Regions from separate parts of the Homo sapiens genome. Here all the other regions are linked to region 3. The links come from fine-mapping of genetic effects on gene expression. A gene starts in region 3. Each other region holds a variant in brackets. All regions are shown on one strand. Distances are from middle to middle.

The links.
Region 1: its variant is fine-mapped to the expression of LRRC17 in nasal epithelium (TOPMed, PIP above 0.99).
Region 2: its variant is fine-mapped to the expression of LRRC17 in whole blood (TOPMed, PIP 0.99).

What each region holds. Positions count from the first base shown.
Region 1 is chr7:102,755,629-102,766,153 of GRCh38, forward strand. FAM185A (family with sequence similarity 185 member A) reads left to right here. Exons shown (of 8, transcript NM_001145268.2): 3 at 2,226-2,318; 4 at 5,645-5,783. It also overlaps the pseudogene RPL7AP39. Among named protein-coding and RNA genes, the nearest start is that of FAM185A, 12 kb to the left of the region's middle. The variant T/C (reference allele first, on the strand shown) is at 6,601.
Region 2 is chr7:102,857,269-102,868,300 of GRCh38, forward strand. The region is part of intron 17 of FBXL13 (F-box and leucine rich repeat protein 13); the gene reads right to left. It also overlaps the pseudogene RN7SKP198. Among named protein-coding and RNA genes, the nearest start is that of LRRC17, 50 kb to the right of the region's middle. The variant C/T (reference allele first, on the strand shown) is at 5,471.
Region 3 is chr7:102,908,372-102,919,403 of GRCh38, forward strand. LRRC17 (leucine rich repeat containing 17) reads left to right here and starts at 4,629. Exons shown (of 4, transcript NM_001031692.3): 1 at 4,629-4,774. FBXL13 (F-box and leucine rich repeat protein 13) reads right to left here. Exons shown (of 21, transcript NM_001394494.2): 12 at 4,715-4,844.

The sequences.
Region 1 (10,525 bases), 150 kb before region 3:
TTGAGCTGACTGTTTTCCTGCCTGTCCTGTGTCATAAAATGGGAGCCACTTGCTGCATTATCAAGGGGAAGGCAAGACTGGGATGTCTAGTTCACAGGAAGACCTACACCACTGTCGACTTCACACAGGTTAACTCAGAAGACAAAGGAGCTTTGGCTAAGCTGATGGAAGCTATCGGGACCAATTACAATGCCAGATACGATGAGACCCACTGTCACTGGGACGGCAATGTCCTGGGTCCCAAGTCTGTGGCTCACATTGCCAAGCTCGAAAAGGCAAAGGCTAAAGAACTTGCCACTAAACTGGGTTAAATGTACACTGTTGTGTTTTCTGTACATAAAAATAATTAAAATAATTAAAAAATAAAAAAAAGTGCTTTGTGGATAGTCTTTTCAAAGGTTTATCACATATTTGATAAGGAGTATATTAAATATAATTTGACTTCAGACTCATGTCTCTGGGCATAACGTAGTTAACCATGCTATAGTACAGATTTTTTTTCTCTAAGAGACAGGGTCTTGATGTGTTGCCCACGCCGGAGTGCAGTAGCACGATCCTAGCTCACTGAATCCTCAAACATCTGGGCTCAAGTGATCCATATCTCTTTATGTAACAAAACTAAAGACGTATATAATGATTAAGGGAAAACATCTGGGCTCAAGTGATCCATATCTCTTTATGTAATAAAACTAAAGACATATATAATGATTAAGGGAAAATAAACTACTCTAAAAAAAAATCAGACTAGGCCGGGTGCAGTGGCTCATGCCTGTAATCCCAGCACTTTGGAAGGCTGAGGCGGGTGGATCACGAGGTCAAGAGATCGAGACTATCCTGGCCAACACGGTGAAACCCCATCTCTACTAAAAATACAAAAAATTAGCCTGGCGTGATGGCATACGCTTGTAGTCCCAGCTACGTGGGAGGCTGAGGCAGGAGAATCGCTTGAACCCAGGAGGTGGAGCTTGCAGTGAGCCGAGATCTCACCACTGCACTTCAGCCTGGGCGACAGAGCGAGACTCTGTCTAAAAACAAAAACAAAAAACAATAGACCAAACATCTAATGGCTCATATATAATATGAGTTTATTTCTTACTTGTGTCCAGGTGTATGGGTGGGTCTTTTTCATTCAGTGATTCTAGGTTCCTTCCGTCTTCCGGCTCTGCCATCTTTTAGAGCCTTGTTATATTCTGGACCCACTTGGTGGAATGAGAAGAGCACAGAGAAGGCACACTTGTTCTAAAAGCACCAACCTGGAAATGGCATATAGCATTTCCACTTACGTTATGTTGGTAACAACTTAACAACACCTAAGAGGTAAAGGAAGCTGGAAAATGTGGTCTTGCCATGGGTCAAGCTATACTGCTTTTACTTTGGAAAAAAATGGATTTTGATGAGCCAATAGTAGTGTTTGCCATAGTTCTCAAGTCCAAAATCAAGTCACTCACACACACACACATACACATACTTTTGTTTTCTGTCTTGCAGAATAGGCTAACTGGCTTGTGACTGCTGTTTTGTGCTCGGAGGCATTTTTACTTAGTTTCTGGGATGTGTTGTGCTAGAAGGTTTAAGTGGGCTGTTAACCTAATGTGTATTCTGTCCTTCAGACCGGTCCAGCGTTAAGAGTGTGGGCTTTGGAATCATACAGAACTTGATTCTAATTGTTACTTTAGATTTTGGGTTTTTTTCTGTGTCACCCTGATAAAGTGATTTACCTTTCTGAATCTTGGCATTCTTCCTCTGTAAAATGGGAAAAATGTAATACTTATCTCTCTGGTTTGTCGTGAGGATTAAATGATAGTTCATGTGAAGTAGCTAACATGGTATCTGGTGCAGAGAAAATGCCAAATAAGTGATAACTATTATTGTTATTAATGATGAATAGTAACTGATTATTATTGTCATCTTCATCACTGTGGATATTTAGTTAGCTGGTCACAGTGATTTTTGATTCCCAAGTCCTTCATCAGTGAAGCTACCAGAATACCCAAGTATCTCTTGTTTTTCCCTTAGAGTCCAAGTGGCTTATTTAATCCCTTTAACAGCAGTTGACATTTTTTTCCAGTTGATGTCATTATTCGAAGCAGTGAGTTTCTATTTCATTCCTTATTGTTCTTTTGTTGCTTTGTCAGTATTAATACAGAAATATTGAAAATGTTTCACTAGTATAAGTCACACTTACTCTCTTTTTCACTATATGTATTTTTAAATTTGTCTTTCAGGGTCAAAAATTGCATGTTCAAACAAAAGGAGGCAAAGTGATCTGTCTGGGAACAGTTTATGGAAATATAGATATTCATGCATCAGATAAAAGTGTAAGATTGAAACTTTCTTTTTTTTTTTAGTAATTGCAACTTTGCTTCCATTTGGCTCACCAAGTTGGTAGGTTCTACAAAGTTCGTAGCATAACATTCCCTTTTTAATGCATTTTAGTTCATAAGTAAATTCAAATTTGAAATTGAAGTGATGAAATAATATACAACTTAAGTTTTAGTTTGTGGTTTAATACTTTTGACAGTTACTTAGTTCCTAGTCTGGAATCAATAAAAACTTAAATGCTTACTATTTAACTCTAGTTCTGAAAAGATTTTTATTTTTATCATCATAGATTAAAATAGATGATTAAGTAATATCACCAGTAACTGGATTGGATTTTTCTTGTGTTAGGTTTATTTGAGTATTTTCTAAGACCTTTTTACTTCGCCCTTAGGCAAATTGAAGGATGTTTCAAAACTCAGCTTTCTTCAGTATTTTCCACAAGGTGGCACCATTAGATAGCTTTACTGCTCTCACAGCTTTTTTTTTTTTTTTTTTTTTTTTTTTTTTTTATAGTAGCTATTGGGATTTTTGTTGTTATAGGAAGATAGTTGGTATTTTTTAATCAACTCCTTTTGTAGCTTTTGGTTATTTAGCATAGTATTAAGAGTAAAGGTATAATTTTGGAATTATAAATTGTCATTTAAAAAATGTGATTGATAATGTATCTTTGAGAAAAAGTTTCCTTTTATTTTACACTTATACAATTTGCAAGAGCTTTTTTGTTTCTTATAAATTTGCTAAATTCCATAGTCAGCTTTATTTTCAGATAATTGGTGGGGAGGAGTTGCAAGCATATTTTGTATGTAGATTATTGTTGGCATAATTAAACAAGATAGACTATAACAGTAATTGTTTCTGTTGTTTTATCTTCCATCACCTTCCTACAAATTTGCTATATTCCATGGTCACTTTATTTTCAGAGTTGGTGGGGAGGAGTTGTGAGCACATTTTATATGTAGATTATTGTTGGCATAATTAAACAAGGTAGGTTATAACAGTAATTGTTTCTGTTGTTTTATCTTCCATCACCTTTCTCTTAGACCCCGTGGGAGGTTGTTTAAACCTAAACATTTAAAAATACTCTGTAAATTATACTAGGAAAGTGTTGAAAGACACTGTGTGGCCTTATGCTGCAGCTTTTTTGAGATGGCATTTAGTTTTACTTTTTAGATTGCTGTGGTCTTGGAGGTGCAAGAGGGAAATTAGACAAATTTACAGCCCCTTCAAACTCAGTAAATGATGGCTAATGTTATTGAAATAAGTTACTAGAATATTGTAACATTTGCATTCAAATATAAGTATCAAAGAATTTAATATCTTAATCATTTGCTACCTTGAATATCTTGGCCACTGTTTCCTCTCAGTTATTTATTTGTTCCAATGTTTATGGTTTATTGAATATTCATGTGTTTTACTTGCTATTATACAATTTTATTTCTTGATTGAGTTTTGTTATGTACTAAAGAATCAGTCTAGGGTTTTTTTCCTATTTTTATTACATATAGTATTGATTTTTAATGTATATTTCTAAGTTTGTAGTTTTTATAAAACATAAAATAAATACTTGTGAAATCTATTAACTTTTAATACACAACTTTCATAGAAATGTGATTTGGATATTTGAGAGACAAATATAGTGAATTAGTTAAGAGCACAGAATATATTCAGAGCCAAACTACCTGTGTTTGAATTCTGGCTCCACCATTCACTAAGCTCTATAACTGGACAAATTACTTAACCTCTGTGTGTCTCAATTTTTTGGAAAATTGGGTAATAGTAATAGAACAAACTAAAAAAATCCTCTATTAAGAGGATTAAATGAGTTAATACAGGTAAAATACTTAAAACAACGTCTGGCACATAGCTAAGTCTAATGTAATGCTTACCACGATGATGATGATAAAGGTAAAGGAATCACAGGAAAGATAACTTGGACGGGTTCTAGACCTACCAGTTAGCTTCCCAGAGACTCAGTTTCATTATTCAGCAAACAGGATGGTGATATTTGCTTTGTCCACTTAACAAGGTTGTGAGAATCAAATGAGCACTATAAATAATAGCATCATTATTCTACATGACTGTTTTTAAATTGTGTTAATTTCAGTATCTAAGTTTAGTTTTATAACTTAGCAGAGAACACAGAAACCCATTTCGTCTATTTGGTGAATTGATGACATAGTTGTCAGTTTTCCTCTCAGTCTGGGCTATGAAGCCACAGTACTTCCTTAAAACTTGGCTTTCATTATTTGTAAGAACTATATATATGTATTTACATATATATTCATAATAACTAAGTGAAAAATTTTTCTTTTCATGTAGAAAAGAAAATTTATAGCAATACCTCTGTCAGGAAGATACTGATTTTTAAATCTACTTTTTGTTCTGTCATTAAATAGTAAATTTAAATTCCTTCCATTTAGTTTGGTGGAAAGCTACTGCCTTATTAGATGTCAAGTGGAAAAGTTCTAGAAATAATAGTGTATTCACTAATTAATGTACTAAAAGAGAAAAATCATGATAAATCAATAGAATCAGATAAAGTATGTGCTAAAATTCAAAACCTATTCATGATTTAAATAGCAAAAGCAATCAAACAAAGTTGAAATAGAAGGGAATGTCCTTAATCTGATAAAAATTATTTTAAAAATATCTATAGCAAACATCATGCTTAATGGTGAAATGTTGTAAACTTTTCTTTTGAGAACAGGAATAAGACAAGGATGCCTGCTGTCCCATTGCTTCTGCTAGCTGCTATTCACTGTTGAATTGCGGGCCTGAGACAGATGGTTAAGGCAAGAAAAAGAAAGAAAAAGCAGGAAAAAAAGTATTAATATAAGGATTGGAAGGGAGGAAATGAAGCCATCACTTGTAGACAGTATAATAACACATATATAATTTTTAAAAGTACAGATAAATTATTAGGATTAGTGACTTTAGTGAAGTTGTTGGATTAAGATCAAATACAAAGTCAATTAGGATAAAATGAAATTTTAAAAGATACCTTGTACAATAGCACTTAAAAATATCTAAAAGGAATAAATCTAATAAAAGATTAAGAATTTTATATAGGACATATAAAACATTAAGAGAAATTAAAGGAGACCTAAGTCAATGGGGGAATGTATTGGATCTGTTCCATATTCTGCAGAGAATGCACTATTGCTCAGAATCTCGTAATTAGAGGTAGGGAATCAGAGTCAATAAAGTGATTGTGTACTAGGTAGTAACATTTTATGTAGTTATCCACTGATTCCACAGGTAGCATTTTGGCTTTTTACCAGTCTTTGTTTTATAATGAACTGATTAGTCTTTCTCTTACTAGGCTGTGACCATAGATAAACTGCAGGGAAGTTCTGTTACTGTATCTACCGAAGATGGTTTGCTGAAAGCCAAGTATCTTTATACAGAATCATCATTTCTGTCTTCTGCTGCTGGGGATATTACATTAGGAAGTGTTCATGGTAAGCTGACAAAGGCATAATACATCTGAGACTTTCCACATAGCATAAATTTTAAGAGATGACTCTGTAGTTGAAAAAAGGATCAGGAAACTGGCCTTTTAAATAATGAAATGCAGACTAACCATCTTTTTAAAAAAAAAAACCATAAAAATAAAATGACTCATAAAGCTAATTTAATTTTATTTGTGCAAGAGATTAAAGATTATGCTGTTATATATGGAACTAATAGTAAGTCTAATTTTTAATGCATTTCTTTTTTCTTTTTTTTTTGAGACAGAGTCTTGCTCTGTTGCCTAGGCTGGAGTGCAGTGGCGTGACACTGGCTCACTGCACCCTCCACCTTTCACGTTCAGGTGATTCTCCCACCCCAACCTCCCGAGAAGCTGGGACTACAGGTGTGCGCTATCACGCTAGGCTAATTTTTGTATTTTTAGTGGAGATGGGGTTTCGCCATGTTGCCCAGGCTGATCTCAAACTCCTGGGCCCAAGCGACCCACCCCCTTGGCCTCCCAAAGTGCTAGGATTACAGGTGTGAGCCACACTGCATCCAGCCTGTGTTTTCTTATAATAGGAAACAAATAGCAAGGAAATACATGCAGGAGATGAAGTAAAAGCAGTGTTAGGTAAAGATGGGTACTGAATGATTGCTTTTATGTTAACATAAGAAAGCTGAGGGTTAAATTAATGAAACATTTGGTGGAAGGTAATTATAGCAACTCTGATACTAACTTTATTTTAAATGTTTTGCGTGTATTTGTACTGGCACCAGGTTTTCTCAGCACCCTGTTGTTTCCATTTTCTTTGATAAATATCCTCT[T/C]GTGGTTTCTAAATCCTGTCTCTGCAAGAAATATTACATAGTTAATGTTTGCATTATTGAAAGAAAATAAGAGTATAATGATGAGGTAATATGGCAAAGGGCATGCTGGTGTTCAGTGTCACTCAGCTGCTTCTTGAATTTCCACAGAGCAGATGATTCAAATCCAGGTATGTTTTCTGAAATATATACAGATAGAATTAATAATCACTAATCCAGTATAAAACATCTGCTAAATGCCTTTTGAGCCATATTCCAGGAAGTACAGATTCGGACTTTTTCCATATATAGTCCACTCATTTCACCTCTATAGTAAAGCTGGATATTGGTATCTGTACACTCTGGCAAAACTCTCAGATTTTAGTTGTGAGCAAGAGTTATAGAGTGGCATTAGAAAGCATGGTTAGTGCTAATCATGCTATGTAGTAATTTGGCAAGTAGTCTTCTAAAAAAAAATTTTAAAAAGCATACTTATATGCTTGAAATAGTTCTGGAGCCTCAATTTAATGGTTAAACCTCAAGCATTCTTGCAAGGTTAAAGTATTATTTGAGCCCAAAATAGCTTAAGTACATATGGAGCTGTACCCAGATGAAGCAAATGGTTTTGTTACTTATTCATTTATTTATTTTTTATTCAGTTGTACCTTAAGTAGATCTGGTAGTTTGTAACTCTTCATAATTTAAAAGTGACTTTTATATAAGCATTGCATTTCTAACTATCTTAATCATAATGAAAAATACTGTGCTTAATGTATTTAGTAGCTTTTAGTGGAGAAACAATTCCTTATCAAGTCAGATGTGGATTAACATCCACAGGAAAAGCAGTCTGTTCTCTGCAATGCTTTATACCATGTTTACACTAAATTCATAATGTTTCTTTTTTGCATTCTTTTAAGTTAGATAAATTGAATTTGGTACAGTTTATCATTAATTGCCTAGATGGTAGTAAAACAGGTGGTCTTTTTTGAAGCAGTCCTCAAAGTACTTAGGTCTGTTGATTACTTAAAGTAGCTAAAATGGAAATACATTGCTGGAAAAGAAAGTTAATTCCTTAGCCTTAATAAAACCTTTTTATATTTACTGACCTTTAATATGAAATCAGATACCTTTCCTTAGCTGGTTTAAATCTAGGTCCTCTTTTGGACTATTGTTTCAGGTTGAATTTCCCTGAAAGCAGACACTCTGAAATGGAAATTTGAGCACAGCGAATTTACTAGGGAGGCCTCTTGGGACCAATGCCATGTAAAGGAAGAAAGCCAGATTTCCATGGGAGAAGTTGGACTGTGATACAGTTTCAGTAACCCACACGGAGAGCTCTGAAGCTGGGATGGTCCCTCAGAGTTGTCTCAAGCTGGGGTGAGAGGAGCTGGACGTTTATATCCCCAATCATTAGATGCAAGCTGCCCCAGGAAGGAGTATGATCTTGGGCCGAAGTGACTCCTTTTTGCTAGGTAATTCCCAAAGACGGCTGACAGCTGAGGGCTGTCTGCCAGCAGTACTCCAATAGCTAGGAAAATAAGCCCTTCAGTTATGATGTGGGATCTGGATGAGGAATATAGCATCTACTACAGTTATATTTATTCATTCATTTGACACATTTATTGACCACCTACTGTGTGCCAGATTTCCAGGCACCAAGGGTGCAAAGTTGGGCAGGAGGTGAAACCTGTCGTTAAAGAATTCAGAGTAGAGTAGAAGGATTAAATATACTTTCTTATTTTCTCAGTTACTACCATCCCCTTTGGGATGTTACTTCCCACCTCATTTCCAGTGGTCCATTATCACCCTGCCTCAATGCAAAGAACTCTTTTAGATGTTTCTCACAGCTTCTTTGTGTAATACTAGTACAGCAATGAGAAGGAGAAGGGGAAGGGAAAATTTAATCCAGTTTCAAATTATAGTTACTTTCACAGAAGTAACTGTAGAAAAGCTTCCATGTTCAGCCTTGCTTTCTCCACCTAGTCCTTGTTCCTCACTCTGCTTTGGTTTTTCAGCATATACAAGAGAGAACTAAGACAGGAAACCCCTCTTAATTCCATGGACACACCCCAGTGCCTCGACTTTTAAAAAATCACCCTTCAGACACTTCTAAGTTTCTTGCCTTCCTCTCCCCTATCACCTCTATTTCCATCCTTGTCCTAAGGGATTGTATGAACATGCTTTTGGAGTTTGTAGTCTGGGGTTTGGGATGGGAGGGGTACAGGAGAGCGGGCAGTGTTTAGTCTCACATCCTGGTGGGTGAGAAGATTAGAGTCATGGCTGGTGAAAGTAAGTCCCAGTTTTCTAGTTCCTGGAATTTTGGTGGGAATTATTTCTCCCAAGATCTTCCCAACCTAGAACTCTGGATATATATTTCAATGAATTCTTTGTGCTAAATGCTGATGGTTATATAACACAAATTAGGTATATATTTTGGCTATATTTAAATAAACTGGCTTGAGAATCTTAAAACTTGTTTTTATGGGAAAATACATTGCTATTTCTAAACATTTGACTTACAGAAAACAAACTGAGAATATATGCGTTCTTGGTCAGGATTTATTTACTTTAGCTTCTTTTTTCTTAAGCAAGGCTTAAACTAATTTTTTTCCAGAGAGAGCAGAAAAAAAAAATCCAACATATAGATGTTGTAAAAACCATTTATACACAAATATAATGCAGTAACTTTCTTTTTGGTGGATTTTACAAGTAGAGTTTGGAGCCTTTGTGCCAGTAGGTGGGTGGGTGGGTGGTTGAAAGCAAACATGTATTGAGTACCTAAATTGGCCAGCCCCTTTTACTTAATGAACAATTGGCTGTTCACAGATGAGGAAAACTAGACTTAGAAATGTCTAATTGTTTACTCTCAACTCCACAAGTTAATTAGTGGAATAGCAAGGATTTGATCCTAGTTTCTTGGCTTTCTAGGAGAGGTTTTTAAACAGTGAACTTGATTGCAACCGCAAATTCCATCATCACTTTGAGGGCTTCCTGGCTCACTGTAAAGATGTTTCCTCCAAGAAGACAGTACTATAACACAGATGCACTGCTTCAGCTATGTTCTACATTATAAGTTCCTTGAGTTTCAGGACATTTATCGTGCTTTATGACTGAAAATGTAGATGTTCCATACAGTGTTTGGGCTTAGCTCCATGGTAGCATTCAGGAACTGGACTCCTTCCATAAAAGTGATGGTGCTGTCTTAAGTGTGTGGCTTCTAAGTCTTCCATGAAAGGAAACAAGAGCATGAAATTTATTTTTTGTCTGCATTTTCAATATTTTTATATACCCTGATGGCAAAGCAACATCTAACATACTAGTGCCGAGTACTTAGAGCATGCCCATTAATGAGGAAAAGAGTAATGAAAGGAGCAATATATCTTTCCTGGCCTTGCAAGTTGATTCCTATGTATAGAGAAGAAAATAATTTATCCTAAGTGTTTTTTCAAGTGAAATTTTTAAGTATAGCTAACTATATTTTATATGTAAGAAACTGAGTAAGCTAATTGACTAGTCATATTTCCTATTTGTATAGTTGGTTGAATCACATCTGTTAAGTGTGTATGCCTTCTACTACAAAAGAAACCAGTTTATTCATTGACTTATTAAATATTCACTTTCTGACGATGGGAATCTAGTGGGAGAATAGGTACTTGAATAGGTTGTGTTTAGATGTAAAATTTTATGAGTTTACTATCTTGATTTCCTTCTAAATAATCAAAAATTAAATTTGGTTTTATATGAATAATATTTTATTAAATTCTGATATTTGAATATTGATACTTTTCAAAGAATGCTGTGCATGTATAATACATGCATATATTTATATGTATTCTACAAAATACAGTTTTAAATATAAATATGGTTTTTCTGACTCTATTGGAGACAATGAAAAACTTCCTTGAAATGGTTTGCTAGGATTGGTTTTATTTATAACCCATGATTTAAA
Region 2 (11,032 bases), 51 kb before region 3:
AACAATAAACAAAGTGAAGAGACAACCTATAGAATGGGAGAAGACATGTGTGAACTAGTCATACAACAAAGGACTAACATCCAGAATATACAAGGAACTCAAACAACTCAATAGCAAATAAACAAATGATCTGATTAAAAAGTGAACAAAGGAACCAAGCAGACATTTCTCAAAAGAAGACATATGTGAGGGCGATGTGGCTGTGATATCTGTCACCCCATTGATCACCAGGGTTGATTCGGCTGATCTGGCTGGCTAGGCAGGTGTCCCCTTCTTCCCTCACCGTTCCATGTGTGTCCCTCCCCAAAGCTGCGTGCTGGGTCAAAGAGGATAGCCAACCCTGATAGAGGAGGATGGGTTATTGGTCTAGGATACAAGTAGCTGCACTCCCCTGCTTGAACCTCCAAACCTCTCAGGAAGACATACAAATAGTCAACAAATATATGAAAAATCATCATCAGGGAAACGTACATCAAAGCCACAATGAGATGTCATCTCACCCCAGTTAGAATGGCTATTATCAAAAAGACAAAAAATAACAATGCTGGTGAGGATGCAGAGAAAAGAGAACTCCTATACACTGTTGGTGAAAATATAAATTAATACAGCGATTATGGAAAACAGCATAGAAATTTCTCTAAAAACAGAACTATCATATGATCCAGCAATCTCACTAGTGGGTATTTACCCAAAGGAAAGGAACTCAGTATATCAAAGGGATACCTACACTCCCATGTTTACTACAGCACTACTCACAATAGCTAAGATATAGAATCAACCCAAATGTTCATCAACAGACAATTGAATAAAGAAAATGTAGTATATATACACAATGGCATACTATTCAGCCACAAAAAAGAATGAAATCCTGTCATTTGCAGCAACATGGATGAGCCTGGAGGACATGATGTTAAGCAAAATAAGATAAGCACAGAAAGATAAATACCACATGTCCTCACTCATGGGAGCTACGAAAAAGTAGAGTACAATTGTGGGAATTAGAGGATGGGAAGAGTGGCAGGGAGGGAGGATGGGGATTGGTTGGTTAACAATTACAAAATTATAGTTTAATAGGAGGAATGAGTTCAGGTATTCTGCAGCACTGTGGGGTGAATATGGTTAACCATAATTTATTGTATATTTTCAAGAAACTAGAAGAGAGGATCTTTAGTGCTCACAACACAAAGAAAATGATAAATATTTGAGGTGATGGATACTAACTACCATGATTAGATCATTACACATAAGGAAATAACACTCTGCATTCCACAAATATGTACAATTATTATGTGTCAACTAAAAATAAAAGAAAAAAGTGGAAACCCAAATGCCTATCAGTTGATGAAAGGATAAATAAAATGTTAGGTCCATACAATGGAATATTATTTGGTAATAAAAGTAGTACTGATGCATGCTACTATATGAACGAAACTTGAAAATATCATCCTAAGTAAAAGAAGACAGACCCAAAAGGCCACATATTGTTTGATTCCATTTGTATGAAGAGTCCAGAATAGGCAAATATATAAAAACAGAAAGTAGATTAGCAGTTGCCTAAAGCAGGCTCAGGGTGGGACAGGCATAAGGAGTGACTGCTAATGGGAAGGGCTTTTCTTTTGGGAGTGAAGAAAATGTTCTGGAATTAGATTCTAGTGGTAGTTCCACCACAAACAAACATACTAAAAACCACTGAATTGTATACTTTAAATTGGTGAGTTTTATGGTACATGAATTATGTCTCAATAAAAAATGTTTAAAAAAAGATTGATGTAATAATTGTATAAGTACATAAAACTCAGAAAATATTCCTACAGCATCCTTAAGTCCAAGATGAATACAGATGTTACCCACTTTTAATATATTTTTGTTAGCAACTTCAGACCCTGATGACAAAAATAGTAGCAAAACGGGGAGCAAGAGATGTCACCCTGCTCATGTGTTAGACAAGTAACTAGAAGCCCTTTCTGCTGTAAGTAAACACATCTTTGTAACTGAGCAGCAACAAATCGAGCCGGCAGAGATGAGGCCTCCACTAAAAATTGCCTCATGCTGGTTACAGGAGGCCAGTGAATTTCACTGCCTAATAAGTGAAACACACTATTTCAGGCAACAGGATTCACTTTTAATGTGGGTTTTTTTTTTCTCAGAAACTTTTTAGATTAGTGACCTAAAGAATGTCAGAGCCAGCAAGGTAAATATTCTGTTTGGCACTGTGAGGTTCATAAATGCTCCAAATTAGGAGGTGTTCTCTGAAACAAGTGACATTTACATTTTACAGATTTCTGATGCCAAGGTTTTAGCCCTGGGAGGGACAGGAAGAGTGGAGTGGGAAGAGTGGAGTGGGAAGACAGGCCAAAAATGAGGAGGCAAGAGGTAACAGCAAGATAGAGTGACTCGGTCTCAGTGGGGCAAAGGGCAGATTGATGCTTACCTTTCAGGAAAGCTGTGGCATCACTGCAATGGAAATCATCCTTGGTCTCCCTCATAAGTCAGCCAAACTCATGAATGCTTTTGCTGGAGAGAGGTTTTGCTTTTATTTTCCCAAAGCATAAAAAGGGACTACATTTTATGGTCAGCTGAAGTGCAGAGGAAAGCAGCTGGAGTGGTGGCCTGGGGAAGTCACCAGCATTGCAAGTTGCATGAGAATGTGAGGCACCAGAAATTCACAGGAATCCTGGGGAGCACTTTGCTCCTCCATTGCTAATGGAATTAAGGGGCCTGAATCTTAGGGGCCCAGGAGTCCTGAGTGGAAAAGTGGCTTCGTTATAGCTCCAGTATCACGTTCATTGAGGGGCATATCAGGACATAAGGCTCAAAAGGAAGCAAGCACCAAGTCACAAGAACCTCGTACATTATTCTAAGGAATCTGGACTTCATCCTATGCAACAGAATTAAATAGAACTTTCTCTCTCTGGGGAATATGAGTGGGTACATAAGTCACTATAATGAGGTTCCTTATGTACCAACTCATTCTCTACAGAAAGAATGAAGTATGTGTTTCAAGAGAGCTATAGGGACCACACAGCAGGGAATGAATGCTTCCAGTTGGAAGAAAGAGATGGCAGTCTAGAAAAGAGTTTCACAGAGGAAGGAGATTTTGAATCAAGCCTTAAAGATTAAGTATCATTTTGACAAGTGAAACAATGGGAACAGTGTTTCAGGCCGAAGAAATAGCATGGACAGAGACTTCATGTGCAAAGTGTGAGTTGTTGGGAAGTAGTTCAGTTTGGGGTCACTGGGAGTAGTGGGAGGGAAGATGGAACACTGCCAGGAACAGACACATGCACACAGACATTTGAGAGCAGACAAATCCTTGAACACTACACTTTCCCCACACTTTTTCATCTGGAATTGTTTAGCTGATGTACATAGACAATGTCAATGAACTAGTTACCAAATGTTGGAATGCTCTGTGTGTGTGTGTGTGTGGTGTGTACTTACTATACGGCTGAGTCATACTACATCTGGCTTAGACTATCACCAACATAAACAGAAAACATGCTTCCCCAACTCTCTATTTTGAAAATATTCAAATGTACGGAAAGGTTTAAAGAATGGTTATAAAGAATACTGACATACACTTCATATAAATTCACCAATTATAAACATTTGCCACATTTATTTAGTTGAGTGTGTATATGAACATACATATTTTATTCATATATATGTATGAATAAAATTTTATATACATATGCATAGTTTATATATAGTTATATATATATACACACACATATATATATACACACAAATATACATAAATTTCCCTGAACTACTTGAAAATAAGTTTCAGATATCATGATGCTTTATCCCTAAATATTTCATGTGCATCTCCTTAGGAATAACGACATTTTCCTATGTAACTATGTAGTATTATGCATATATAGTATAGACATATATAGTATTATGACACCCAAGAAAATGAACAGTAATACTGTAATATCTAGTACAAAGTCAACATTCAAATTTTTTTGTATCCAAGACCCAATTTGTGCATTGGATTTGGTTATCATGTCTTTTTAGTCTTTTTTTCTTTAAATTTTTCTTTTAAGACATTGACTTTTTTTAAGGGTCTAGGCCAGTTATTATGCAGAATGTCTCACATTCTGGATTTTTCTAATTGTTCCTTATGATTAGATTCAAGGTAAACTTTTTTTGCAAAAATACTCCTGAATTATTATAGCATCCCATTGGGAGGCACATATGTCCAGTTGTTCCACAACTGGTGATGCTGTTGGGCCACTTGGTTCAGAAGATGACTACCATAGATCTCTTTATTAGAAGAGGTATATTTACCCCTTTTTATTTAAAAAGTAATTTGTTGAGATGTTATAGTACACCCAGAATATTCTGCAAACATGAGAAGTGTTTGTTATAAAGAATATATAGTAACATACTTAGGTTCAAAAAGCAGTACACAAAATTATATCTGCAGGCCGGGCGCGGTGGCTCATGCCTGTAATCCCAGCACTTTGGGAGGCCAAGGCAGGTGGATCACCTGAGGTCAGGAGTTCACGACCAGCCTGGCCAGCATGGCAAAACCCCATCTCTACTAAAAATACAAAAATTATCCGGGCATGGTGGCAGGTGCTTGTAATCCCGGCTACTCGGGAGGATGAGGCAGGAGAATCGCTTTAACCCAGGAGGCAGAAGCTGTAGTGAGCCAAGATCGTGCCACTGCACTCCAGCCTGGATGACAGAGTGAGACTGTGTCTCCAAAAAAAAAAAAAAAATTCACATCTGCATATGTGTGTGTATAGTGTATGTATATGTGTATTAAAAGAAACAGACGTTTTGGGCAGGGCGCAGTGGCTCACGCCTGTAATCCCAGCACTTTTGGAGGCCAAGGCGGGTGGATCATGAGGTCAGGAGTTCGAGACCAGCCTGGTCAATGTGGTGAAACCCCGTCTCTACTAAGAATACAAAAATTAGCCAGGCGTGTAGTCCCCGCTACTCGGTAGGCTGAGGCAGAAGAATTGCTTGAACCCAGGAGGCGGAGGTTGCAGTGAGCTGAGATTGCACTACTGTACTCCAGTCTGGGCGACAGAGGGAGAATCTGTCTCAAAAAAAAAAAAAAAAAGAAAAGAAATGGACGTTTTGGAGGGTGCGCAATGATATGAATATGTTTTTTCATTATTCATATTTCTTTTTGTATTACTAGTGTTTGTGAAAATAGCATAATTTGGAGGAAAAACCCAATATGTGTCTGTTATTGAATATTTTTGTGTATCAACAAAGAATTATATAAAATATTTACACTAGGCTTTATTTCTTTATACAAAGCAACACAGTTCTGGTTAGTTTACTTTCTATTCTAAACAAACCATCAGCACAAATGTGCTAATATTCAAGCAAAGTACTCAGCTATGAATGTTAACATGTACAAGTATTATATACATAGATGAACAGTTTTACTTTACAAAAATTGATGGATACTGCTCTATCTTCATATTACTTGACCCAGCTTTGAAGC[C/T]TGACTCTGCTGACCATCCCCTGCTTTTTGAAATAGCATCTTCCTTGTTTCTCATGATATTACTCTGACCTCTGTCTCCACCTACTTCTCTGGATGTTCGTTTTCAGTTTCCTTTGTAGGTTCATCTTCCAAATCTATTCAATACATACTGATGTTCCCTGGAGCTTGGAACTTGACCTTCTCTTCTCTTTGTGACTCTCATCCATGGCTTTGACCACTTCAGCCATCTCTAGATCTAGCCCAGATCTCCCTCCTGAGATACAGATCTTGTTCTCTAACTGATAACTAGACATCTGAATGTGTCATAGGCACCTCTAACTCAGCACTGTTACTTTCAGAGAACTAGAATTCAAACTGGAAGCCATGAGATTTCATTGAGCTCTTCCTATTCTTTTTGCTAGCTTCAGTCAGGAGTCTGTGAAAGATGAATGCTCATGATGGACTTTCCTTTGATTTAAATACAATGGCTCCTTCCTCTGCATTTTGTACCTTTATGACCCTCTTTATAGGGCTCCAATTTCTCTATATGGGAAATCTATATAACCTAGGGTATTTGATATTTGAATTCAGGATATTGGAAAATGCACTCTATGAAATAAGATGGAATGGGGCACCCAGGACTCCAGGATGTAGTTACTGGGGGTATAGATCATGGGAAATCTAAAAAGTCCCCCGACAGTCAGTAAACATAAGAAGGCTTCTTTCATGCCTTTTTAATTTGTTTTTAAGGATAAAACAGAGTATAAGTTTTTGCTGTGATAGAGGGGATAAAATTGGGGGGGGGGATGGTACTGAAAATCCTTGTGTGAGTTTTCTTTCAGAAATGCTTGAATTTGAACACACTGAATTCCTATGATTCCAGATATCCTGAGGAAAACAAAGCAAAGTAAAACAAAACAAAAACAAAGATTCCAAAAGTCAGATGGATGTTTGTCTTCTCTGTCACCCAGAATCAAAGGGGCCCATAGTTTAGAGAGATGTGCTAGTACTAGTATTAAACATGTCCAAAATGGAATTCAGTATCTTGTCTCCAAGCCCTAATTGCTCTCCTAGGTTCTTTTCCTGGTTTGTGGCACCACCATGTTCACAACTGACCAAATAAAAAACCTGAGCATCGTCTATGTCTCCTCTCTGCCTCCCTGTTCCCCATATTCAGCCAATGAATAAGCCCTACCAATGCCACCCCCTAAATATCTCTCAAATCTGCCCCCTCTGCCGCCACTATCAAAACCTCATTATTTCTAGCTATCATTGCAATTGCTCATCCTTTCTTCAATAGATCATCCACACTGCCACCAGAGTTATGTTTCTTGTGCACAAATCTGTCCTGCTCTCCTACTCAGAGTTCTTCAATGGCTCCTACTGCATACTGCATGTAGCCTGAATTGCTGTGCAGGGCACTCAAGGCCACCCACATTCTGCCCTCCATCTCTTTCTCCAGCCTCATCTCCCTCCACATCCCCTCTCTTCTCTGGCCATGCTCTGACAGCACTGAGTTATCTGTGAATCCCAACACATAACCCTCCTTATGCCTCCAGGCCTTATCATCTGCTTCTTCCTCCAGCTTTCAGCTGCATCCCAAAAGCTAAAAAGCTTCCCTTGACTCCTCCACAGAGACAACAGAGACAAGTGTTCATTTTTTTTTTTAAGATGGAGTCTTCCTCTTGTCGCCCAGGCTGGAGTGCAATGGTGCAATTTCGGCTCACTGCAACCTCTGCCTCCTGGGTTCAAGCGATTTTCCTGCCTCAGCCTCCCAAATAGCTGTGATTACAGGCGCCCGCCACCATGCCCAGCTAATTTTTGTATTTTTAGTAGAGATGGGCTTTCACCATGCTGGCTAGGCTGGTCTCGAACTCCTGACCTCAGGTAATCCACCCTCCTTGACCTCCCAAAGTGCTGGGATTACAGGTGTGAGCCACCGCACCCAGCCAAGTGTTCATTTTCTAACTCATCTGTGCTGTTGTGGTGCAATGCCTCCATCTCCTTTTCAGCAAACAAATCTTATGTCAGAATTCAAATAAATAATCACTAAGATGCATATAGTGCTTGCCATGTGCCAGCTTACATGCATTGCCTTACTTAATCCTTATAACAACACTGTGAGGTAGGTAATATTATAATCACCATTTTAAAGAGAAGGAAATGGAGGCACAGAGAAATTGAGTAACTTGCCTGCGGTCTCAAAGTGCCATGGCACCAGCTGAGATATGAACCCATACTCTGAATTCATGCTTTTAGTAACTTTTAACTATACAGTGATGTTGCTTTTCTTGTTGTTATTTTGCCATTAGACTGTACCTTGAGACCAGTACTCTTTCAGTTTGGTACTCCCAGAACTTAACAATGTGTATGATATATAGTTGACAATGAGTAAATATTTGTTGAGTGAATCAGTCTACCTATAAAATTATCTATTTATACGGACTCAATTTTCTCTTATCTTGCTGGCATACTCTCAGAATTTTTGGATGAAATGCATTTCCGTTTGGAATTCTTTGAATCAGGGTTTACATTTCACATGCTTCTTTCTGAAAGATTTGCTCTGTTTGGTATTGCATACTGCATTCTTTCAGAAATAAAGAACAAAAGTTATACTTGGAAATATTTATTATCTCAATTAGCACATCCTCTTTCTAAATTCACTGATAATACTGTCATGTACAATGTTCTCGAAAATTTCTCTTCATCTCCCAAGCGATCTTCCCTTTTCTACTCTAGTTAGTAATTATGCTTTTATAAATATAATGTACCTTTTCTTCTCAATATTTTATTTACTTATTTTTGTGTTTTTTTTGTTTGATTGTTTGTTTTTGTTTTTGTTTGAGACGGAGTCTTGCTCTGTCACCAGGCTGGAGTGCAATGGCGTGATCTCAGTTCACTGCAACCTCTCCCTCCCAGATTCAAGCAATCCTCCTGCATCAGCCTCCCAAGTAGCTGGGACTACAGGCACGCGCCACCATACCTGGCTAATTTTTGTTTTTTTTTTTAGTAGAGACGGGGTTTCACCATGTTGGGCAGGATGGTCTCGATCTCTTGACCTCGTGATCCGCCTGCCTTGGCCTCCCAAAGTGCTGGGATTACAGGGGTGTGCCACTGTGCCCAGCCTATTTTATTTTACTTTTTAAGAGACAGTGTCTCGCTGTATCACCCAGGCTGATCTCAAACTGCTGGGCTCAAGGGATCCTCCAGCATCAGCTTCCTCGGTAGCTGGAACTACTAGTCTTCTCAATTATTTTTGTTTATTTCTACTTAATCAATTGTTAGTATGAATTTTGTAATCATATTTCTTTTTAAAATGTATCAACCTCTCTGACCTAATTTATTGACCTACAAGTCTAAAGGAAAGCAAGCTTTGATCACCACACAGACATAGATTCTGTATTGTGATGCTTATAGAAGGAAGGAAAATTGGCATCTCTGTTACCTGAAAGTAGACCAACTTGCCTTGAGACTGTTTGCCTCCTACTTGATGGAGGTAGAGAGGAGAGTCATGCTGCCAAAGATCCATCTTGAGGGAAGTGACAGGCTCAAGTTGGTCGCTTCTGTTTGCAGTGTTTTTAGTAGGCACTTTGCTAGAAACAGGAGACAATGGACCATAACCTCTGTGAGAAGGAACCACTATCACTAGCTTGATGGGACCAACATAGTCATGTAAGGCCACTGGCTGGAGAGAAGGGCCTGAGGAGGACTAGGAGAGGTCCAGCTCCATATGAAAAAAAACCAAAAGCCCATAACTGGGCAGACTTCTTGTTATGTGCTTTTTGAAAATCCACGGCAAATCCATTTGTCTCTGAACTACCGTGCTTCCTTTCAACTCTCATTCTTCCTATTTCTTGAATCCCAAGTGATTTCATGTGTTTCCTGCTTTAGAGGTTTTGCTTCACTGGACTCAGGCTTTATTTTTGTGTGTGTTCCATGCAGATGGGTGGTCTCTTGCAATTGTATCATCAGATTAAGACACGCAGCTGTAAGTGCTTCCACTCCAGCCCAGAGCATAGCTGAGACAATGTGGAATTTAAAGAAGACTTAAGTGTTTGGTTAAGAGGAAGGAAATGGTGCCAGATTCATTCATTCACTCACTGATCAAACATTTTATGTGCCTCCTATGAACATCTTGCTAGGCATCCCAAAGATGGGATGGTCCTGTCTCTGCTCTTGGGAAGCTTACAGTGCTATAGGGAGACAGGCATGGAACAGACACTAGAATATAACAAGCTGATTGCTTCAGTAGAGACATATACAAAGTGCAGTGGAAATACAAAGAAGGAGATCCTAAGCCTGCCCAGAAATTCTAGGAAAGCTTCCCCACAGCTGAAACTTAAGAGATAAGCAAGGCCAGGCATGACAGCTGACGCCTAACATCTCAACACTTTGGAAGGCCAAGGCAAGAGGATCACTTGAGCCCAGGAGTTTCAGCCCAGCCCAGGGAACATAGCAAGACCCCATCTCTACAAAAGAAAATTTGAAAAATCAGCCAGTCATGATGGTATGTGCCTGTAGTCCCAGCTACTTGGGAGGCTGAGGCAGGAGGATCACTTGAGCCCAGAAAGTTGAGGCTGCAGTGAGCTATGATGATGCCACTGCACTCTGGACTAAGTGACACAGAAAGACTCTGTATCCAAAAAAACCCAAACAAACAAACAAAAAAAAAGAAGAATTTACTAGGTGGACAAGTAGTGGAGAAGGTGTTTCAGACAGAGGGAATAACTTGTAGAGATGGGGAAACAAGAACACAGCATGTTTGAGGAGCTGTAGGAGAGTCAGTTCTGTGTGTCTGGAGCTGAGGATGAGAGGCGGGAGTCAGCTGGAAGCAGGGCTGCAGGGGTGGCCAAGGGCCGCCTCAGGAAGAGCTTGGTCCACCAGCCCATTGATACTGTAAGCAGTGTGGAGTCCCCAAGGAACTCTGAGCCAGGGAGTGATAGACTTAGACATATATATATATATATATATATATATATTTTTTTTTTTTTTTTTTTTTTTTTGAGACAGAGTCTTGCTGTGTCGCCCAGGCTGGAGTGCAGTGGCGCAATCTTGGCTCACTGCAAGCTCCGCCTCCCGGGTTCATGCCATTCTCCTGCCTCAGCCTCCTGTAGCTGGGACTACAGGTGCCTGCCACCATGCCTGGCTAATTTTTTTTGTATTTTTGGTAGAGACGGGGTTTCACCGTGTTAGCCAGGATGGTCTCGATCTCCTGATCTCATGATCTGCCCACCTCGGCCTCCCAAAGTGCTGGGATTACAGGCGTGAGCCACCGTGCCCGGCCAGATATTTTTTAAGTTTTGTTTTTTACTGACACAAAGTAATTGTGCTTATTTATGGGATACAGTGTGATGTTTCAACACATGTAGACATTGTGTAATGATCAAATCAGAGTAATTAGCATATCTATCACCTCATTGATCATTTCTTTGTGGTGAGCACATTTAGAATCCTTTCTTCTAGCTACTTTGAAATATACAATAATACATTATTGTTAACTATAGTCACCCTGCTGTGCAATAGAACACTAGAACTTATTCCTCCTATCTCACTGTAACTTTGTACCTATTGACCAACCTCTCC
Region 3 (11,032 bases):
GAAAGATTACATATCTCTGTTTCTCCAGGATTGCCCCTTGGTGCCTTATTTAGTTCATTTGGTAAGGTCATGTTTTCCTGGATGGTATTGATGCCAGTATTCTTCGGTGTCTGGGCATTGAAGAGTTAGGTATTTATTGTAGTCTTCACTGCCTGGGCTTATTTGTAGCCATCCTTCTTGGGAAGGCCTTCCAGATATTTGAAAGGACTTGAGTGTTGTAATCTAAGCTGTATCTGCTTTAGGGGGCACCCCAAGCCCAGTAATGCTGTGGTTCTCGCACACTTGTCAAGGTACCACCCTGTTGGTCTGGGACAAGATCTGGAAGAATTCTTTGGATTACCAGGCAGAGGCTCTTGTTCTCTTCCCTTCTGTTTCCCAAACAGAGTCTCTCTGTTCTGAACCACCCAAAACTGGTGGTAGAGTGAAACAAGCACCCCTGTGGCCTCCACCACTATGATTGCACTGGGTCAGACCTGTAGCTATCACAGCACTGGGTCTTGCCCAAGGCCTGCTGTAACCACTTCCTGGCTACTGCCATTGTTCACTCAAGGCCCTGGGGCTCTACAATCAGCAGGTGGCAAGGCCAGCCAGGCCTGTGTCCTCCTCTTCAGGGTGGTGAGGTCCCCCAGACCCCAGGTGAGTCCTTAGGTGCCCTCTGGGAATCAGGGATTAGAGTCAAAAACCTTAGAAGTCTACTTGGTGTTCTATTGCACTGCGGCTGAGCTGGCATGCAAACTATAGGATGCAGTCCTTCCCACTCTTCTGCCCCTTTCCAAAGGCAGAGGAACCTTACCCTGTAGCCACCGCCACCCCAGGCCATGAGTAGTATTGCCAGGCTACCAATGATGTTCTCTTATGGCCCAAGGGCTTTTAAGTCAGCTTGTGGTGAATGCTGCCTCACCTGGGACTCATCCTTCAGGGCAGTGGGTTCCCCTCTGGCCCAAGGCAGGTCCAGAATTGCCATACAAGAGTCAAGTCCTGGAATCGCGGACCCCAAGAACCTGCCTCGGTGCTCTACCCTCCTGTGGCCGTGCTGGTATCTAAGGTGTAAGACTGTCCCCACTGCTTTTCCCTCGCAAGCAAGAGTTTTGCCCCATAGCTACCCTAGCTGGTAATATGCTGAGTCTCACCTGAAGCCTGCAAGTCACAGAGGCTCACCCAAGGCCCTCAATGTAGTAGCTGGGTATTGCTGCTAGTTATTCAGGGCCCAAGGGCTCTTCAGTTAACAGGTGATGAATGTTGCCAGGACTGGGTCCCTTCCTTCAAGGCAGCAGGTTCCCTTCTGGCCCAGAGTGTGTCTAGAAATGTAACTTGGGAGCTAGAACCTGGAACGAGGGCCTTATGACTCTAACTGGTGCCCTATCCTGCCGTGGCTGAGCTGGTATCCAAGATGCAAGACAAAGTCCTCCCTACTCGTCCTTCTCCTCTCCTCAAGGGAAAGGAAGGGGTCTCTTTTGGATCGATGAGCTGTGAGGCTTGGGGCTGGTTGAGGGGCAATGCCAGTACTCCCTTGGCTGCTCCAGCTGGTGTCTCAGTATGTCATGTACCCCTCAGTCCACTGTCTCTGTGCCTAGTTGAGCACTAGGATTTGCCTAAGGGTTACAGTCCTTATGGCCTAGACTGCCTTTCAAGTTTACCTGGAGGCACAGCGCACTGTAGCCCTCAGTGGTGAGGTTTGTAGAACTCAAGTTCTGACTGCTGGGACTGGCAATTCCCCTGTGTCTAGGCCTGGGTTAAATGCTCCCTCCGTGGGTGGGCATCAGCTGAGTTTGGTCCAGTTTTCCTCTCTGATCCAACAGGACAGCACTAAGTTCAATGCCTCACAATTGGTGTATTTTCCCTTCCCCAGCACCCAGAGAGGCTCTCTGCACCATGTTGGAGGGGTGGCACTGGCGATTCAGGACTATTGTTTCTATCTCTTCAATGACTCTTTCAGTCATATGAAGTTAAAACCAGGTACGATGACTGCTCATCTGATTTTTGGTTCTTATGAAGGTGTTTTTTCTTTTTCTTTCTTTTTTTTTTCTTTGTGTGTTGGGGGGAGGGGGTCTTTATTCACATGGAGTGCTGTATGCGATGCCTGGGAAAAGCTCTCAGCCTGGTGTGTGCTTCAGCGTGGCTCGGGCTCCAATCTCTGTTTTCCAGTTTGTCACGGGCTCTCAACTGTAAATAGCCTATGCCCTGCTGGATGCCACCTTCTTAGACACCACGTGAATCCCCATGCACTGCTCCTCTTACCCCTTACCACCACCAAGCAGCTATTAGACACCTGAGGTCTCTGTCCTGTTAGTACCATGGGGCAGAAAGGTATGATACCTTTTTTCACCCATAAGGGTGACAGCCAACACTCCTAACAAAATACAGGCGTGCAAGAGAAAAGCATTAACAAATTTACTTAATTATTTGAGGCAAGGTCTCACTCTGTCTCCCAGGCTGGAACGCAGTGGTGGGATCACAGCTCGCTGCAGCCTCAATCTCCCAAACTCAGTCAATCCTCCCACCTCAGCCTCCCAGGCAGCTGGGACCAGAGGCATGCACCACCATGCCTGGCCAATTTTTTGCATTTCTGGTAGAGACGTGGGTCCCACCATGTTGCCTAGGCTGGTCTTGAACTCCTGGCCTCAAGTAATCCTTCTGCCTCAGCCTCCCAAAATGCCAGGACTACAGGCATGAGCCACCGCGCCCAGCCTAAAAGCATACAAAGGTGTTTTTTCTCTGTAGATAGTTGTTAACTTGGTGTCCTTGGGTGGGGAACAATGGGTGGAGCCTTCTGTTCCACCATCTTGCTTCACCTCCTCCAATTATGTGTGTTTTGTATGCATATCTGGGCAGTAGGTCATAGATTTGAAGCCTCTCATTTCAACTTTACTGTGTCTGAGAATATTTATCCTTAGGACACTTGTGTATACATTTGTGTGTTGTTGCTACAATAATTGCCTCATGGTAACTGAGAAATTGATAAGAAGAAGGAGGTAAGTCATACCATGAGGAGGGTTTAAGCACAACGGCGAGTTAGAAAAGTACTGAAGGATTTATAGTTAAGGGGCAGGCTTATCAGTGGGATATGTCAAGCACATTAAGTTGTTCCTGAGTTTGCAAATATTTTTCTCTGTGATTGGGCCATTGGCATTTGCTAATTGGTGCCCATCAAAGTTAGGCTTCTACCCACCCACAGGAACTGAGAGATATCTTCTTTGATGATTATATATCAAAGGGATAGATCCCAGGTCCTTGAGGAAGACTTTCCTGAGTTGTAAAACTGTCAAGAAGCTTTTGTTAAAAAGACATCTCAAAGTAGGCAGAGAAAGAACTTATAATTCCAAGTTTTCTAAAACAAATGCTCTAAGAAACAAGAAAACAAGAAGTCAGGGCCTAGAGTCAGTAAGAAGCTGGTCTAAAATTCAGTCATGCTGAGGAGAACGTCAATGCCATCTCAGTCATAAAGTTATGGTAGATGTTGATGTTTAAAAAGCTACACATCAGCAGATCAGTTTTAAACAAATATGAATGTTAGATGTTTACAGCCCTAACTTAGAATCCTCCCCTCCTTGCCCCAACTCCCTCCAGACCACCCAGGGCATCAGGATACCACAAGATGTCAGTGGAGGTGACTAGGTAAGAATTCTATCCATTCAAGAACCCTGGGGGAGAAACCCATGCTGCCCCTGTATTTCCCACTATCCCAGGGAACTCTGCCTGCCCCAGTATCTAGCAACAGATGCTTAAAACTGTACTAGTACCATGTGCTTTCATCAGCTGTGCAAACTTGGGCAACTTATTCAACCACCCTGAGCCTTGGTCTCTTCATTTGTAAATAAGCATAGTAAATACATACCACCACAGCACTGTATCAGAAGTAAATCTGATCTGTGTATAGCACTCAACACAATGCTTGGCATATGGTAATGACTCAAGAAATGATAACTATCAATATTTCAGCCAGTTCTCACCTATGCTATTATTCTCATAGAATAATGAACATACTATGACACCAAATTAATAAAATACACAGAGAGGCAGAAGAAAATAAGTTAAAAGAATTATGGCTTAAATCTTTTGAAATTAAAGCAGAAGAAACTATCAATGAGGCAGTAGCTACATCCAAAGCGCCATGCCCTATCCTCTGCAACTTGATCCAATTTTCTGCCCAACTTTCCAAGTCCTGTTCCCTCAAACTTAAAATATTTTCCCACGCAGATCTCAAATCTTCATGTTATTCAGCCCAACGGTGTAATGCAATTTTTTAAATTATGAGTTTTTGTTGTATTTTCTTTTCCTATTTATCACTTATAGCATTTTACCCCCCCCCCCCCAAAAAAAAACCCATGTGGGAGTTAATTGACTTTTCAGGAATCCCATGCAAAATTCTCCCTCAAAACATTCTCTTTGTTTGTGTCTTGGTAGCAACTCCAGAGTTTTCAGGACTTGGACTCTGCTTTAGACTTGTGCTCAGACTGTCTCCACAAAAGTGGTCCGTTTCCTCATCCAATGAGCTCTGCCTGTTTGTCTGTGTGACACTCCAGTGGAAGGAAGCCAAGAGCCTATAATAGCGATCCTGGGGAAAATTTCAGCAGCTGGGGCCATGTAATTTAAAACCTCTGAAAAGTGTGCTGCGGTCCGTGCACAGCATTAGTATAACGTGAGGGCTGAATGCAGCCCATTCTCTGGAGAACTTCCTCACACACCGCAGCAAAGAGAAGACTGAAAGACAAACCTGGGTGCAGCCAGAGAGGTCCAGATAGATGAGCTTGTGGCATCCATTCCCCAAGTTCAGGTACTGTAAGCCTTTGTCTGTGAACCGTCTGCAATAAGCCAAACTAAGATTCTGTAAGTTGTGGAAGTGCCTGAAAAGACAAAAGAGAGGAAGGAAAGTATTATACTTCCGTTGTTCTCTCAAATCTTTCTTAAGCCACTATGACAAAGAAAACTGTAAATTCAACTCTTCTTCTTGCAGATGTTCAACATTTAACTTTACTGTTAACTCTCTACCTGTTAATTAAAGGAGACTACAGTGTTATATAAGGTAACACACAATACATTTAATACCTTGTAATACATTTCAAGTGAAAGTATTAATAGTTCAATAATATTTGCCTAGATATTTAAGAAAGTTGACTGGGATAAAGCTTTTTTGGTGTGTGTGAGGTGGGGGAGGCAATCATATTGTTTGGAAGTGAAACCAAATTTGCAGAGTGTATTGTTGCTTTTAGGTTTTATCTCTGGAGTACCAAAATAATGTGCAAAATATATAAAAGGACAAATCCTTTGTAAACATTTAAATGGAGACTGTTACAGGAGAGTGAGGATTTGGGACAGAAGGCAAAACTGAATATGACCATGCTCTTAAAATAGATCTGATAAGCAAATGAGTTTAAAAAATAGGTTTAAATATGCATGAGTTTGTGACAGTTTCATTATTATAGTTAAAGAAAGACTAATTGATATGCAGAGTTTAAGCATGGATTAAGAAGACCAGTTTGCAAATAAGCAGGCAACACATGAGAAGAATCAAAAGCAACATCAGAGACTATAAATCTCGCTGGAGTTGAAACAGATTAAATATGGTATTACCACAATGACCAAAATGACAGCTTCCAGAAAAAAGTAGGGTAGTTAGGATGAGCCTGTACTACCATACGAGGGCTCGCAGTTTGAGGACACTCCGTGGACAATTTCCCAAGCCCTCCAAAGCCTGGAACTTTTTTTTGAGACGAAGTTTCGCTCTTGTTGCCCAGCTGGAGTACAATGGTGAGATCTTGGCTCACTGCAACCTCCTCCCCACTCCCCCAACCCCTGGTTCAAGCGATTCTCCTGCCTCAGCCTCCCAAGTGGCTGGGATTACAGGCGCGTGCCAACATGTCCAGCTAATTTTTGTATTTTTAGTAGAGACAGGGTTTCACCATGTTGGCCAGGCTGGCCTCGAACTCCTGACCTCAGGTGATCCACCCGCCTTGGCCTCCCAAAGTGCTCGGAACAGGCATGAGCCACCGTGCCCAGAAAGCCTGGCACTTTTTAAGAGGTCAAGGATTCCCACTACTATCTGCTCTTCTAATGGAATTAGCAATCATGCTCTTAGTTTGTGATATGCAACAGCTTAATAGCAAATTAGAAAGCAAAAAGAATGAAAAGTGAGGAGAAAATGCTTCTCTGCCTCTCAAAATCACACAGGTGAATAAAGTTTACCTCCCATAAATGGGAAATAAGATATACAAGCACTGACCATTAATCAGATTTTGAAAAACACATCTATATGATATAATGATTTGCATGCCATAGCGAATTACTTGATTCAGAACACACATCCCGATCTGGGAAGGGCTGTGTACGTGAGATTCGACAGAGCGAGGGGGAAGGCTTTGGACTCACCAGTGACTAGGTGGGCAGGGCCTGAAGGAGAAAGCAGTGCTAATATCCCAAAGACACGCCCCCTCTCTTGGGGCTGTCGAGTGGACTGAGCTGTGCTAAAGTTTTGGAAATGCGTTATCTTCCTCTCCCTGGGGTACACCCTGTGATTCAACTGAGTACAATTTTCTTGGGGTGGGGAGAGGCACACCAGGGTGTCATTTCTAGCAATCCTTTAGCTTTATAATCTGTAGAAAGGAGTTGTGAGGCAGGCCGCGTGACACAGTGCAAAATACACAAGGTTTTTGAATCCGGCCAAATGAGATGTAAATCCAAGCCCTGACACTTACTGCAACCTCCCTAATCTCTCAGAGATTGTTTTCTCATTTGTTAAGTGGAGATTAAAATATTTTTTTTTTTTTTTTTTTTACACTGATCAACTGTGGGGCCTCCAGCTTTCCTGAACCTCAGTTTTCTCATCTGGAACATGGATGTAATCTGGTCTGCTTGTTCCCTTTAAAGATGTGACAATTAAATGAGAATACAGAAGTAACAGTATTATCTTGAGGGTGATTTTAACAATCAAAATCGGCAGGGACATAGTAGAAGATTTAAAACTATATGTAATATTATTGCTACTACTATGTGAAATGATAGTAACACATTAACTATTTTTATGGACTTTGTATTATTCTTCCATTTAATGAAATGGATACTTATCTCCAAGAGTGGTGCATACAATAATTCCAAGAGTTTGAAGGATTTCACATTGAATGTATACCTCGATCTACACCTAGTATTCAATTTCTTTAAATCCATGTGATCAGTTAACAAATATCAAAAATGAGAACTGAGCTAGGAGTGCTTAACTTTTTTTAATGTCACAGACACCTTTGGCTTTTGGCAGTCAGCTGAGGTCTCTGGCCCCTTTCTTGGCATAAAGTTTTTAAATGCATAAAATAAAATATATAAGATTACAAAAACAGCCAATTATATTGAAATACATAATTACCAAATAAAAAAACATTTATGAGTAGAATAGTAATATATGTGCTTCTTTATTAACATATTAAGTAAGATTTTGTGGCAGTTCTAATAACTGCTGTGATTGTGAACTATCAGTGATATTTTGAAATACTTATAACAATTGAAATGTGATAAGAATATATTTGTGATTTATATGAGTAAAAATGTCCCAGAGACTGCTAATACTTCTGTAGTTTTTACCTACATTTCAATTACAGTTAATAAAAGTAGAGATGAGTTTCTTCTTTTTTTTTTTTTGTTTGAGACGGAGTCTCACTCTGTTACCCAGGCTGGAGTGCAATGGCATGATCTCGGCTCACTGCAACCTCCACCTCCCAGGCTCAAGTGATTCTCCTGCCTCAGCTTCCCAAGTAGCTGGGATTACAGGCACCCACCACGACGCCTGGCTAATTTTTTTTGTATTTTTATTAGAGACAGGGTTTTACCATGTTGGCCAGACTGGTCTCAAACTCTTGACCTCAGGTGATCCGCCCACCTCGGCCTCCCAAAGTGCTGGGATTATAGGCATTAACCAGTGCAACTAGCCGAGATGAGTTTTTTATATCCCCCATTAAAATTCATGGAGCTCCTGAATTCTATCCCTGATCCTCTTGGGGGAATCCACTGCTCCCCAGCTAAGAACCTCTGGTTTAGATAAAAGAGGCTGTTCATTAGACTAAGTGACTCCTGGATTGAAAATCTCTGGATAGCTCTTTTCACAGTGGAACCTCATGGAACCATCAGTTTGAAGGCAAAGCTCAGGAATCTTGGGTGGCCCTGTAGGCCTTTCTAGGGATTTACAGTTCTGCAGACTTAAAGCTGCTAGGGACGGGAAAAGTGTCAGTTGACAGCAAAATCACAGGTGGCAAATTTTGTGCAATACTCATACTCTTTATTCTGAATTTTGGCAAAGACGCGTGTCCCCTACATGAGTAAGATCTGATTCATCATTTTCCCAGCCCAGAGAACACTTGGTAATTCTAATTCTGCTTTGAGGCAATGTTTACAGCTTGTTTTTATCTTTTTCTAATTATTTGATAACTGTTTCTTATGGGGGGGGGTGTGAGTCCTCTCTTTGTGATTTATTTATTTATTTTTCTGCTACCACTATAATCTTTAGAGAAATTACAATTCTTATAGAAACTACAAAGATTTTTTTTTCTCCTTTCTTTTGGGTTTTTTTCCATTAAAGAATTGAAGTCATTTGTGTTAAATTTCTAACACCTGAAGGACTTACTACTAAGATGAATGGAAAAGTATGTATTTAAATAAAAAATTCTCTGAAAAAAATCACCAAGACAAGGCCTACTCTGTAAAAGAGGGAATTTGCATGTGGATTCTTTTGAGTTGAGTGTTGGGCTCTCTGGTTTCACAGAGGCATTTCAAGTAATAGAATTCTGCAGAAAACCTAAATGGAGTGATCTGGCCTTCTATTTACAGGGTAGACCTTGAAGTTGTCCAGTCAAGACAACAGCTTACTTTGTCTGCCCCACTTTGATAGGCACTGGTGAGACTATAGATCATGATAGTTCCTGATAATAAGAAATTTCCAAGCCAATTGAAAGGTCAATTCATCTATATAAAAAACAATTGGATACTACTCCACTATAGCATTTAAGACTCAATTAAAGAGCAAAGATCATAATAGCTTTACTCAGCACTGTATGCCCAGAACACCTTGCACATACTAGTTGATCAATACATGGTGAACAAGTGAAAGAAGGTTGTTATTATAATTCAGGAAAAGGAAAAATCACTGCAGACTTCTGGTAGATGGCGAGACTTAAGGTGTGAAGGCTGTAGATTAGCCATGAGAAGGAGAAAGGCACTGCAGCTATAGAGAATGTGAAGCATGCAGCAATCAGATGACTGGAGTTAAGGGCTTCTCTTGGGAAACCTAGGCAGAGAAGTTTGGTTGGAGAATGTCAACGAAGAGTAAGGGAAGAACCTAGACCTTAAGCATGTCAAAGACATGATAGGAAGATTGTTCCAGGATGACACTTCTTGTAGCGTGAGATAGAACAGATTGAAGGGAGGAGAGACCAGAGGCAGCACCACCAGGATACTGTGCCAAATGAGGTGCTGAGAGTGCCACCTAGGTTGTGACAATAGGAATAAATAGAAAGTGTTTAGTTCCGGAAACATTTAGAGGCAACAAATTTCCTGGAATGGGCATGAGCTTTAGGCAGCCCTCATTTTCAACTTTAGAAAACTGAACAAGTCCCCAAAGAAGTGAGAAAAAATATTCAAATAAAAAGCTGGCAAATCATTGTTGCCAAGGACAAACAAATTACATTTTTCTCTTGGCAAGTACTTTTTTTGGAAAGAAATACTAAAAGCAATGAAGAGAGAATGACAGCAGAAACAACCAACATTTCTCTGCTTATTTACAGTTTCGAGAACATTTTTGCATACCCAAGCATATTTGAAACAATGGAAAATAGAGCAAAAACAGAGAATCATTATGAAATGTATTTTTATCATAGATAACTTAGTATACTTTTTTATATGGCAAAAAAATCAGTATCAAGTAGTATCTATTCTGAATATTCTCTCAATGGCAAGAACTAGAAGGAAGAGCCAAACAAAATTCTTATTTTGGGTCCTACTTTTCTATCTATTGCCTACTAAAGGTATAACTTCATTTGTAAAATAAATGTCCCTAAGAAGATATGCATAGCTGTCATATTACCTTCAATTTCTAAGGAGAAAAAAAGCCATTTCAATGTATGATTGAAAATAAATATGTTTTAAGTTAAAAAATAATTTGTAATGTGATATAAACTACACCCTGGGTCACACAGAGTGGATCATGCCTATAACCCCAGCACTTTGGGAAGCTGAAGCAAGAGGATTGCCTGAGGCCATGAGTTTGAGACCAGCCTGGGGAACATAGTGAGATCTTGTCTCTACAAAAGATTTTTCAAATTTAGCTGGATGTGCCCAGGAGTTTGAGGCTGCAGTGAGCTATCATCACACTATGTAGCTGGGTGTAGCCTGGGTGAAAGAGCAAGGCCCTGTCTATAAACAAAACAAAACAAAAAAATGGCTCCCAAATCATCTACTTTGTAAGTTCAGATTTTCACCAATGATTTATGGATTTTATAATACTCTTTTTCTATGTTTATGTACATACATACATGTACATATATTCATATATATACACATACACACATATACACACACACTTATATATCATAGTACAGAATGCCTAAAGAAAGAACTGAGTGGTATTCAATATTACAGGACTGGAGGATCTTAAGTAATTCCTGAAACAGTGTTAGAGAAACCTCAGGGACCTCCCACAGTGGTCACTGGAGCCAGCTTGCACAGCTCATGGGAGTTGATTGTTAGCATCTCTTCCCAACTCCACATTCAATGACATTGTGTTGATAGCTTAAAATCGGCCACAGTGGAATTATTTACACCACAGAAATCAGTAAACACTAGGAATTGGTGCTTCTCCTCACCCTTGCCACCAGCCAGTTGTTAAGCATTTACCAGAACACTGCTGTTCCTAAAATATATTCCAAGAATTACTGCTACAGAGAAGGCAGTATGCTAATGAAAAGGCATATAGAAATAAAAATGATGAAAGAGACAACTTTGAAGGACAGGAATAAAATCGGATCTAAAAATAAAAGGAGATTCTTATGATAAACTC